3 separate regions of the Homo sapiens genome follow, and all the other regions are linked to region 3. The links come from fine-mapping of genetic effects on gene expression. A gene starts in region 3. Each other region holds a variant in brackets. All regions are shown on one strand. Distances are from middle to middle.

What was found. PIP is the estimated chance that this variant, and not a neighbour inherited with it, causes the effect. A credible set is the group of variants that fine-mapping cannot tell apart.
Region 1: its variant is the best candidate, but not a certain one, in a credible set for the expression of SP100 in whole blood (INTERVAL, PIP 0.85).
Region 2: its variant is the best candidate, but not a certain one, in a credible set for the expression of SP100 in whole blood (TOPMed, PIP 0.51).

What each region holds. Positions count from the first base shown.
Region 1 is chr2:230,508,793-230,512,792 of GRCh38, forward strand. SP100 (SP100 nuclear antigen) reads left to right here. Exons shown (of 29, transcript NM_001080391.2): 24 at 2,333-2,374. It overlaps LOC101928816 (a long non-coding RNA gene), which reads right to left. Exons shown (of 4, transcript XR_427235.4): 2 at 1,478-1,547. Among named protein-coding and RNA genes, the nearest start is that of SP100, 95 kb to the left of the region's middle. The variant T/C (reference allele first, on the strand shown) is at 1,872.
Region 2 is chr2:230,465,023-230,469,022 of GRCh38, forward strand. SP100 (SP100 nuclear antigen) reads left to right here. Exons shown (of 29, transcript NM_001080391.2): 12 at 1,279-1,332; 13 at 2,098-2,193. The region is part of intron 3 of LOC101928816 (a long non-coding RNA gene); the gene reads right to left. Among named protein-coding and RNA genes, the nearest start is that of SP100, 51 kb to the left of the region's middle. The variant C/T (reference allele first, on the strand shown) is at 1,969.
Region 3 is chr2:230,413,858-230,418,179 of GRCh38, forward strand. SP100 (SP100 nuclear antigen) reads left to right here and starts at 2,344. Exons shown (of 29, transcript NM_001080391.2): 1 at 2,344-2,471; 2 at 3,734-3,808. The coding sequence starts at 2,440. RefSeq lists an enhancer at 1,991-2,510.

The sequences.
Region 1 (4,000 bases), 95 kb after region 3:
ATCCCATGGTCACTACACATGACCTAATGGAGAATTCCCCCTAAAATGTATATATAGGCATATGTCACCCAGGGAAGCAAACAACAAAAAACATTCTCTCCTTTTCTTTTATCTTTTACCTCCACCACACACACACACACACACACACACACACATACACACACACACACACACACATACACACACACACGCGAGTTCTTCAGGTGAAAATTTTGGACTGGGAGGCAGAGTGCCCTGTGAGGCTGCTGACCTAGAAAATCTTTTCCTTTGTGGAGAGGCCCTTTGGCCCCAGTAAAAGGGCTGCACAGACCTCACTTCTATCTGTGAAGGTGAAATTCTCCCTCTGTGGAGGTAGTATGTGGAGTTCATAGACCAGTGGTCTTCATACTATATGTATTCTATGGAAAAATGGTGAGATCACTGATGCCTTCCATGGCCTCTCCAAGGCTGGGTATAAGAGAGAACCTGGTGAAGGAAGGAGATGGAAGAACTTCCATTTTCCTAAGCTCTGACATGGGTGACCTTGGATATTTCTGCCATACCAGGAAGTCACAATCTTTACAAAGCTGGCTCCTGGGGCTACCTGCTCCACTGGCTTTATGACTAGAGATTCAGTGACTAGGCTCTGTATCCACTGGGTTTTCTGGAGAAAGACATTATTTGATATAATTATTAAAATCAAACATGTCTACCCACTGCCAGACAGTCAAGGCTGATGCAGTCTGGGCTAATCAATTGAGCTGGCCATCTCCCATCCCTTCATCACAGGCACCCTCTCTCCATTCCCTGAGGGCCCACAGCTCTAGAGGTGAAATTGCCTCGGTTCTCAGAGGATCTCCCCGGAGGGTCTATCTTCCCTCCTCTCCCCTCGGTTTCTAATGCTTGTGTCACTCTCAGCACCGCGTGGTAACTGCTATTGTTGCCAGCTTTCCTGCTTATAAGTTTTTTGTTAAACCTGCTGGTGATAGCTGAGATACCCCAGGATAATAAGTCATAAAAGTCCAAGCTAATCGTTTACTGGCTGCTAAGAAACCTCTTCTCCCAAGTGACAATTGTGTTCACTTGTTCATGCACTTATGTATCCATTAAACAAACAACTGTGGAGCCACTACAAAGCTCCAGGTGATGGGCTTGGCCAATGAAATAATGCAAAACAAAGGAGGCCAAAAGGATGAACCTTAAGGATTCTGTCAACCTTATTGTCTTACCTGGGTGAATAACTCATGGGATGGAGTGGGAGATTCTAGGCCACTAAGCTGCTATACTTTATCTTAGCCAAAAGGCCCAGATTGCTTCTGGCAGGTGGTAATATGGCCACCTCTTCTATCATCATGCCTTGGATCCCACTGAGTGGTTTGTCTAAGGCCTCTCTGCCTTGAGCTACAGGTAAAAGCTTTAGCAGTCATTGTTTCATTCCACAGATACCCTAGGTCAAAGCAAGCTCTCAAGATTCAGGAGAAAGTGGAGAGGTGCTTACCTTCAGGAGAAGAGCTACAGTACTGGGGATCTTGGAGGCATTTTGTCTTCAAAGATGTGTTCCTGGAGAGCTGCAGAAAGGGTTAGAGTTATTCCTGGGACACCTGCATGGTGTCCAAGACTCTGGGCCCTGTGGTCACTGGGAGCTGTGGAGGAAGAGTCGGCCGATTCCCTTTGCAGCTTCTCTGGATGGAATGACACTTCCTTTTTTTTTTTTTTTTTTTTTTTTTTTTTTTTTTTTTTTTTTTTTTTTTTTTTTTTTTTACAGAGTCTAGCTCTGTCACCAGGCTAGAGTGCAATGGTGCAATCTCAGCTCACTGCAACCTCCACCCCCCGGGTTCAAGCGATTCTCCTCCCTCAGCCCACTACAGGTGCGCGCCACCACACTCAGCTAA[T/C]TTTTGTATTTTTAGTAGTGACGGGGTTTCACCACGTTAGCCAGGATGGACTTGATCTCTTGACCTTGTGATCTGCCCTCCTCGGCCTCCCAAAGTGCTGGGATTACAGGCATGAGCCACTGCACCTGGACACTTCCAAATTTAGACAAACATGCCTGCAGGCCCCTTGAAGTAGGAGGACCGATAGAGTTGCTCCAGCTCAGTCTCCCTGAATGGTTTCACGAAGGCCTGCCTTGGGTGTGAGAGCCAGGAAATGGCACTTGCATTGGGCCAAACTGTCACTGACACATAATTTAGTGCTTTTTTATTCTTCAGTTAGATGTACAGGTCCATAAAAGCAGACATGAAACAAAAGAAGGGCTGTGGCATGAATCCCTTAAAAATAAAGAAGTCTGTTCAAATGTGGGGTTAATGAAAAATCACACTCAATATTGTACCAATCTTTCTGTTTTTTTCAACAGAGAATACTGGAATCTCACAACAATACCTTAGTTGACCCTTGTGTAAGTATAAATTTCCGACTATGACCCCAAAATAAGTCAGGCCTTTCTCCAGGCACACTATGTCATGACTGCCTTTCCCCGAAGCATGCTCAGTCTCAGTTGGAGTATGTTGCTGTGTGTGATTAGAAGATGCAAGCCAGGTACCTGGGTCTGGGATTGGGTGTCTCAGTGCAAAAGCAGCCTTTTGTTTCAGTAGAAATCTTCAAATTTCCTCATTTCCCTTAGAAAGTGAGTATAGGAGGCTGAGCTCTAGATCACCGAGGCCTCCAGAGACAAGAACTTGAAGTAGTAATGGACAGGGCTGGCCTGCCGATTAGGGAGAAGGATCAAATGTCAGAAAATAAAAGCATTTTCAAGTAGGTGGTGGGAATGGAAAGGAAAATCCCAAATATCTGCTCCAAGGTGCAGACAGAGCTCAGTCAGCCAGAAGGAACAGACCGAGCCGAGCTGGTGAGTTCGAGGTATGGACTCTGTCATTAGTTCTGCAGAGGAAGACACACACGAAAAGTGAGTCTCTTATGAAGCCCCTATTGCCACTCTTGAGGGAGGTTTAGGCTCAGTATGCTGAGCTGGTTAGGACAAAAACCATCACCACTTGGCAACTGATGAGGCATGTTTATTCTCACTTCTTGACTGGTGCTCAATGATGTACAAACCTGATTCCACAGGCTCCATTATCAACCAAAATTAAGGCTGTTTAGGAATAAATAAATTTTTTGAGACAGGATCTTGCTGTGTCACCCAGGCTAGAATGCAGTGACACAATCACAGCTCACTGCAGCCTCAACCTTCTGGGCTTAAGTGATCCTCCCACCTCAGCCTCCCAAATAGCCAGGACTACGGGTGCATGCCACCACATCAGCTAATTTTTTTAATTTGTTGTAGAGCCAGGGTCTCACTATGTTGCCCAGGCTTGTCTTGAACTCCTGAGCTGAAGTGATCCTCCCAACTCAGCCTCCCAAAGTGCTAGGATTACAGGCATGAGCCACAGTGCTGGCCAGGAAGAAATAATTTGATAACGATTTCTTAAAAGCCAAATGTGAGGAGTGACTCAATAAAACACACCAACAAAGTTGGGAGTATTGGGAGTTTTTAACAAATTGAAATGCCTTTTTTTTTTTTTTTTTTTTTTTTTTTTTTTGAGACGGAGTCTCGCTCCATTGCCCAGGCTGGAGTCCAGTGGCACGATCTTGCCTCACTGCAACCTCTACCTGCTGGATTCAGGCAATTCTCCTGCCTCAGCCTCCCAAGTAGCTGGGACTACAGGTGTGTGCCACCATGCCTGGCTGATTTTTGTATTTTTAGTAGAGACAGGGTTTTGTCATGCTGATCAGGCTGGTCTTGAACTCCTGACCTCGTGATCCACCTGCCTCAGCCTCCCAAAGTGCTGGGATTACAGGCATGAGCCACCGCACTGGCCACAAGTTGAAGTGCTCTTATAGCAGAGGTCCCCAAACTTTTTGGTGCCAGGAACCAATTTTGTGGAAGACAGTTTTTCCACAGACCGGGATGGGGTTGGGGGCAGGATGATTTTGGGATGTTTCAAGCACATTAAATTTATCCTGCACTTTATTTCTATTATTATTACATTGTAATAGATACTGAAATAATGAAATAATTATATAA
Region 2 (4,000 bases), 51 kb after region 3:
ATTAGGAGTTCGAGACCATCCTGGCCAATATGGTGAAACCCTGTCTCTACTAAAAATACAAAAATTAGCCAGGCATGGTGGCGCTTGCCTATAGTCCCAGCCACTCGGGAGGCTGAGGCCAAAGAATCACTTGAACCCAGGAGAGGGATGTTGCAGTGAGCCAAGATCATACCACTGCACTCCAGCCTGGGTGACAGAGCAAGACTCCATCTCAAAAAAAAAAATTAGCCAGGAATGGTAGTGTGTGTGCACCTGTGATCCAGCTACTCGGGAGGCTGAGGTGAGAGAGTCACTGGAACCTGGGAAGTTGAGGCTGCAGTGAGTTACGATTGTGCCACTGCACTCTAGCCTGGGTGACAGAGTGAGACCCTGTCTCAAAAAAAATAAGTAAAAAAGAACGAGATCATGTATTTTGAGAGAACGTAAATGGAGCTGGAGGCTATTATCCTTAGCAAAGTAACGCAGAAACAGAAAACCAAATACCATATGTTCTCACTTGTAAGTGGGATCTTAATAATAAGAACTTATGAACACAAAGAAGGAAACAGCAGATGCTGGGGTCTACTTGAGGATGGAGGGTTGGAGGAGGGAGAGGAGAAGAAAAGATAACTATTGAGTACTGGGCTTAATACCTGGGTGATGAAATCATCTGTACAACAAACTCCTGTGACACACATTTACCCATGTGACAAACCTTCACATATACCCCCAAACCTAAAATAGAAGTTGAAAAAATTAATTAAAAAGAGGCATTTCCAAATAATACACACAGAGGATTATGGAGAGAGCTGGGCAGGATCCCAACATTATGACCCTGAACCTCCAGAACTGGATTCACTAGAAGGAGAGAGAGAAAAACGCTCATCAAAACTTTGTTATTGGCAGGGCACGATGGCTCAGGTCTGTAATCCCAGCATTTTGGGAGGCTGAGGCAGGTGGATCACCTGAGGTCAGGAGTTCGAGACCAGTCTGACCAACACAGTGAAACCCCGTCTTTACTAAAAATACAAAAATTAGCCGGGCTTGGTGGTGCACAACTATAATCCCAGCTACTCAGGAGGCTGAGGCAGGAGAATCACTGGAACCTGGGAGGCAGAAGCTACAGTGTACCAAGATTGCACCACTGCACTCCAGCCTGGGTGATAGAACAAGACTCCATCTCAAAAAAAAAAAAAAAAAAACTTTGTTATTAACCCAAGCCCATTTGCCATGTCAGTTGTCATAGAATTTATAAGTCTCTTGCATACAAATAACGGGTTTCTCCCTTTTACTTTACAGAGCCCATGGATTTCAGAAAATTATCTACATTCAGAGAAAGTTTTAAGAAAAGAGGTAAGAGAAAGCTTTAGGAAAAGAGGTAAGAGAAAATAACTTCTCTTCATGGTTATAAATGAACAATATTTTCTACAAAAGAGTCAGTCTAATTCCTTGCTATATCCTTCAAAGTAAAATATAAATTTGCTTTAAATTTCAATGGTTCCTATTTTAGCCTTTGTATTAGGGAGGTTGGCTAACTGCTATAACATATGAACCCAAAGAAGTCAATGACCCCAACACAACAGAAGGTTTTTTATTTTTTTAGTAGAAGTTTGTATTTTTTTCAACTGAATATTTCAAGGATTTTTAGATGAGGGAAAGGTTGGGCTCTGTTTCAAGCAGTTCTTCAGGGAAGCAGGCAAGTAGAAGATCTGCCTTCTCCCATCCTAGACTTTCATGGTTGCCCTGAGAGAGAAGCAAATTTACAAATAAATACAAATCCATATACAAAAACCACAACAAAACCATAAAGGGACAAGTAAAGAAAGAAAGATAATGTGGTGTAAGAAGACAGAGGGCCAAGACAAAGCAGAGATGCCCACTGGGGCTAAAATTTTCTCAGCCTCAGGCTCAGGTGACAGTGAGGGATAAAATACTAACCTTGAGCCACACAAATCTGAATGAAAAGGCAGATCATGGAGGTTTGAGGCA[C/T]GGACATTCTTGCCCTGAAGTTTCAGAGCATCACAAATTTTCCTAGTTTCCTTTTCATAGAATATTATTCTGACTTGGTTCCCTTATCATACATTGAGAGCTCCAAAGGACATTTGCTCCTTTCTGCAGTGATAGGACAAGACCACGACTTTTCAGAATCCAGTGAGGAGGAGGCGCCCGCAGAAGCCTCGAGCGGGGCACTGAGAAGCAAGCATGGTGAGAAGGGTAAGAACAGCTCCCTTGACTTCAGGGCTCTGACTTCAGAGCACCTCTTCCCTGATGCACTGTGCTCTGAGCACACACAACAGCTATCCAGGAGCCAGTTCTCTGCATCTACCTCATCTGGCCATTTTGAAAAATGCAAAGAAAGAAGTCACTCTAAATTCAGGCTTAACAAGATGGTTGTGGTTGAGTGGCAGTGGCCTGTTTACTACATACTGCCTGTATTAGTCCATTTTCATGTTGCTGATAAAGACATACCTGAGACTGGGTAATTTACAAAAGAAAGAGGTGTAATGGACTTACAGTTCCACATGGCTGGGGAGGCCTCACAATCATGGCAGAAGGTGAAAGGCACGTCTCACATGGTGGCAGACAAGAGAAGAGAGCTTCTGCTGGGAAACTCCCCCTTATATAACCATTCAGATCTTGTAAGACTTATTCACTATCACAAGAACAGCACAGGAAAGATCTCTCCCCATGATTCAATTACGTGCCACCAGGCCCCTCCCACAACACATGGGAATTCAAGATGAGATTTGGGTGAGGACACAGCCAAACCATATCACTGCCAGACCTATTAACTCCAAAGTATTGGATTTATGTAGTGATTTCTACTTCTGCTCATTCTCTGTTTTGTAAAGAAAAGAAAGTACACTAGTCTGTTATTGCCTGATTTTGTCACCAACTTGTTCAAAATTCCAAAGCTTCTGGTCATACTCTCTAGTTATTGACAGAAAGAAAGCCTCCTGTTTCTTACCATCAGATTCAATTCATAGCTTTTGACAGATGGCCCCCAACATGAAATTGGCCAAATAGTGATATTTGAAAATATATTTACAAATAAGATCTACTTGCATCTTTACAACAACCTAAAAGGTGGGTGAGATAACTATTGTTCCCCCCATTTGACAGATGGGGAAACTAAGGCACACTTAAGGATCTTTTTTCTTTGCACATCACATATGGAAAGTTATAGGAGGAGACAAGACTAACAACCCAAACTCTTAATAAACATTCATAATCCTCTATAAAACCTTCAAAGCCAGATGTACTTCAAAGTTCAAAAAATGTTTTATTATTTTAGAAAGACAATGTGGTTTATATTCTATATACAACAAAATACCCTAGTAGGATCCAGGGAAGAATCCCATTCTCAAATATACTAATGTTTATACAGCAAATTATATAAATATTCACACCAAATATGATAAGATTTTACACGGACTCATGGCAACTCAAGTCCAGATTCACTGCCAAATTAGTTAGCTGCAAACCTATGAAAACAATACTGGTTATTAAAATATCTTTGAGGCCAGGTGTGGTGGCTCACGCCTATAATCCCAACACTTTGGGAGGCTGAGGGGCTGAGGCAGGTGGATCTTTTGAGCCCAGGAGTTCAAGACCAGCCTAGGCAACATGGCAAAACCCCATTTCTACCAAAAAATGCAAAAAATTAGCTGGGCATGGTGGTGGTGCATGCCTGTAGTCCCAGTGATGTGGGAGGCTGAGGTGGAAGGATCATTTGAGCCTGGAAGGTCAAGACTGCAGTGAGCCAAGATTGCACCACTGCCCTCCAGCTTGGCTGACAGAGTGAGACCCTGTCTCAAAAAAAAAAAAAAAAAAAAAAAAGTCATTGATTTTGCAATTAGGGCTAAAGGATTGTGGGTCTGTGCTCCATTTGATAGTAATCTCTTTCCCTTAGATGGGAAGAGACAGAAATGATCCTCATAGAATATTTATAGTCCAAATTCTGTCAACAGTGTAAGCAGTCATAAGATTTATAGATCTTTTAGTTAGATATTATTGATTT
Region 3 (4,322 bases):
GAAAAGGTGGGGGTTTGCAAAGGGAGTAGCCTCTGGACCTTTTGTTACTTAGGCATGGAAAGTTAGGGTTTTCCTTTCAATTTAGTTCTAGGAAGTTAGCATGAAATGGCCTTAGGTTCCCTGCCTCCAGACCCTATTCTCCTGCCTCACCCACACCACTGAAGTCTGAACTGAAGCTGCTCTTGGTGAAATGTAAGAGGCCCATCATCTGGCTGGGTGCCCTGCCTGTGGTCCTTCCTCAATCACTGCCTCCCCTGCTTTTGAGTTTTCCAGGCTCCAGTAACTGGAACTACTTCTTGACAACAGAAATATTCCCTATTGCCTGTGCTCCTTGCAGCCATGGAAAATGCCCCAGGAGTTCCATTATTTCCTTCTAAACAGTCCAGCAGGATTTTTAGCTCACATGTCTTCTTAATGTGGTCCCGTCCCTTTCCCAACCCCAGTGTGTCTGACATTGTTTTCTGGATCAGAGAAACTTTGCTTTCTTCACAGAGGCCTACAGATTCTCCATATACCAGCGGAGCATGGTGCATGCTCATCTGTCTCCAACCTCATCTGATGAGAACATCTCCTTCCCTGCTGCCAGGAGGTGCCCCAGCATGGGCATGTCTGCCCGTGAAGTTCAACCCGTAAGGAATTCCCTGCCAGCCTGTGGCTCATTGGTCTGGAATTCCAGGTGCTGCTCTTAGTAGCCCCTAAGCACATCCAGGGAAAAGCTGGCACGTTTATGTCAGTGCCACTCAATGGCCTGAGCCTGCCTGCTGCCCAGAGGCAGCGAGAGGGGAGAACGTGAACCACACCAAAGCATACTGTGTGGTCCATGCCAGGACTTCTTGGGACCAATGTGCCTCATGGAGACTGGGATCAAAGGACAGCTGTGCCCAAAAGAGGCTCAGCTTACCAGCCCTTCAGCCCCATAAAGTCGGGGAGTCATGGGGGGTAGGAAGAATGAGAGAAAGAGAGAGAGACCTACAGGTGAGAGAAAGAGAGAGAGACCTACAGGTGTGCAGTGCCTGATAGAAACAGTGACCTTCGCCCACCGGCAAAGCTGTCCTCACCAATGTCCTGGTGCCTGGTCATTCACTCATGGGGAAAAGAAGAGCAGAAGTAGAGTGAGGGTAGAAAGCCCCTTCCCCCACATTTTCAAATGTACCTGGACAAGCATCCTTATTCACAGCTGGAAGAAGTTGGATTCAGTAGAATGCCATTTGGAAAACACCGTTCTGAAGTGCCATCCCCTCTGGCCCCTGAATCCTCACCAGCTTCCACCCTCTGCTCACCTTGGGCCCTGGATTCCAGCGCCCCCAGGCTCCCAGCTGCCTCCCTGTCTCTGCCCCATGGTCCGGCCTGGAGTTCTGGTCCCTGGTTGTGTCCTGTGGCCCCATTCTCATGCGCCCTTTGCTTCTGTTTCTTTACCTATGACTTTATACTGATGTAAAGCGAGTCTTCTCGGTCGCTTCTTGTTCTCTGAGGAATGATGAATCAGAATCTAAATGGAAAATCTGGGCAGAGATAGAACCTCCCGCGGGAGCCACCCTGCCCTTCCATGTCTAGATCATCTGGGTTCCAACCTCCATCCTCCTCCAATGAGAAGCTTTTGTTCTCTCAAGATTCCAGTGACTTCTCCGAAGCTTAGGTGTCTCTTCACCCCTGGCTGTTCCAAGGCGGCCCCATAGTCAAGATTCCTTAAACCCTTGCCCCTTAAAATGTTTGCCTTTCTTACCATGCTGGCTCCAGCCTCTGGTCCCAGGGGTGTGGAGAGTTCTCTCTTACTTCTGGCTGATTTCCAGGAAGGCTAAGCACACTCTCCCCAGGTTATAATGCTGAGCATTTTGGTTCTCTCCAGCCCTGGGTCCCAATGTCAGGACCTACCTTAGTCCAGTCCATGCTCTCCCATGGGCCTGAGAGAAGATTTGAGGTTTCTGGCTTTCCCTCCAACCCTCCAACTCCCACCCCAAGCCATGTCAGCAAGGGGAAGGGGCAAACATGGAGTTTCCCCCCCAACTCCCATGTAAACTATGCCCCCTCTTAGAGGGCAGAGCAGCTAAGGACAATTTTGTTTCAAGGACATTTTTTTTGGCTGTGTATTGCACAAACAAGTGGACACCCGGGAGCTGGCCCTGCTCGTCCCCTGGGCCCTCCTTCCCTGGTCCTGCAGGTCTTGCTGCTTGTCAGGCCTCTCCTCCAACCCTCTGCCACATTTCAGAAAAGCTGAGAATCCCTTGGAGTGAAAAAGGAGGAGAAACACAGTGTCCGTAGCCCAGAAGGAGGTTAAATACTTTCACTTCTCTTTTCCCCATTTGGGCGGAGCCCTTTCTGAGTCAGTCTGTCGGCCGACTTCCTGCTTGGGGCCTGGGCAGCCACACTGCACGCAGGCTGGGCCGACTGAGGGGCTCAGAGGCCAGGCTCTGAGGCCCACGCAGGGCCTAGGGTGGGAAGATGGCAGGTGGGGGCGGCGACCTGAGCACCAGGTGAGTCTTTATCTCCCTTCCTTTAACCTTTATCTCTGGCTATATTGCAGCTTTCATGCCTTTAGTTCAGTTTGTGCCTAAGGCTTCACTTTAATCCTTCTTTGCAAGAACATAGGTATGCGATGTTATATAATGAAATGAAAGACAAGTAATGAGGAAATCAGATTTTTTAAACAGGAGCAGGACAGCTGTTGGTGTGAGTTCAACTTGCCATAACACACGTGACTTTCTTGTTTTGGATTTACTGCTCAGCTGACCGGGACACTCTAAACATAGCAGTTGTTGGTGGCTGGGATTAACTATTTCCTCATGATCTGTGAACCCTTTCACCCCTCAGCCTTCCTCTACCTTCAAATATGTCATGTCAAAAAAGGTGCTTTAGAAAATAAACACTCCAGGGTAAACACCTGGCTTACTTTTAAACATCAGACGCTGTGGTCTCACCTGTCCTGGCAAGGGGCCTCTGCCGGCTGTTCCCATGACTGGCTCAGGGTCTGAGTTCTTATTCCATCAACCTTGATCAAAAGAAGGAAAGGGAAGAAAAAGGCCCAGGGTGACAAACGGCTAAATATTTTCATTTTTACCTCAATTTCCTGTCCCAAGATGGGGGATACCTCTGACCAGAAAAGAGAAGGAAATCCTAACTTTTCTCTAGTAGTGAGTTGAGAAATAACATTACTTAATCTTTTAAATTTTTTAATACAAAAGAAATACACTGTACATTATTGTTCATAAAATTTAAAACAGTGGAGAAGTATATTAAGGAAAAAGTCATCTTTGCCACTCAGCCATTCTTGTAGCTTCTCTTCCCAGTCCTGTGAAGAGTCTTGGGCACAGCTTTTCTTATATTTTTCTATGCATTTATATATCTAATGCATTTTTTGTAAATACGTAATTTATGTTCTTGATTTATAATAAATTATATTACATGTGCTAGTCTGCATTTTGCATTTTTACTTATTTTAATAGTGGAAAACTTAGAGATCTTTTAACCTTAATACATATAGATCTGCCTCATTCTTTTTATACATGCTATTCCATAGAATTGATATATGATAATTATTTATTCTCCAATTGAAGGACATTTAGATTGTTTTTAAATTGTTCACATTTACCAATAAGCTATCATAACAATGATTATATATTTCTTTTTGGGTTTTTACATCTAAACAAATATTTATCTTGTCTCTAAACCTTAAAAATGTAATTATTGAGGCAAAGGGTCCAGTTATTTACTTGGTCCTGCCAAATTGTCTTTCTAGGAGGCTGAATGAATGTATTTCACCAGTAGCAAATGAGATGAACCATCTTCCTGCACACAGCCACGATTTGCAAAGGTGATGAATGAAGAGTTATGTCTTGTTTTAATTTGTATTTTCCTTACGATGGGAAAATTGATCAGCTTTTCATGTTTCTTGGCCATTTAAATTCCCTCTTCTATAAATTGCTTGTTTGTTTTTTGCCAATATGATTCCGTTGAGGTGTTTGTCCTTTTTTTCGTGATATGGGAGAATTCACTAAATATTCTGTAAGTATAAATATACTTTTCTTGTCCATTACCTTTGTCTATGGTGACTTTTATCTTATTAAAGCTTAAAACTTAACATATAGGCCTCTTGTGATACAGATTTTTTTAAGATAGATGCACCCTTGTTATAAACGAGGTGATGCTGACACCCTCTGTGAGCACTCTTAGTTTTTACAATTATTTCTGTGTTAAGGTGGCAGATTCGCTGCTACCGCTATTCCAGGAAGAGTTCCTCCTCTAATATCTCTGAAAATTTTTTAAATTTTTAAACAAAAATATTCTTACATTGGAGCCACTTTAGCCTTCACAGCTTTTATTTGCCC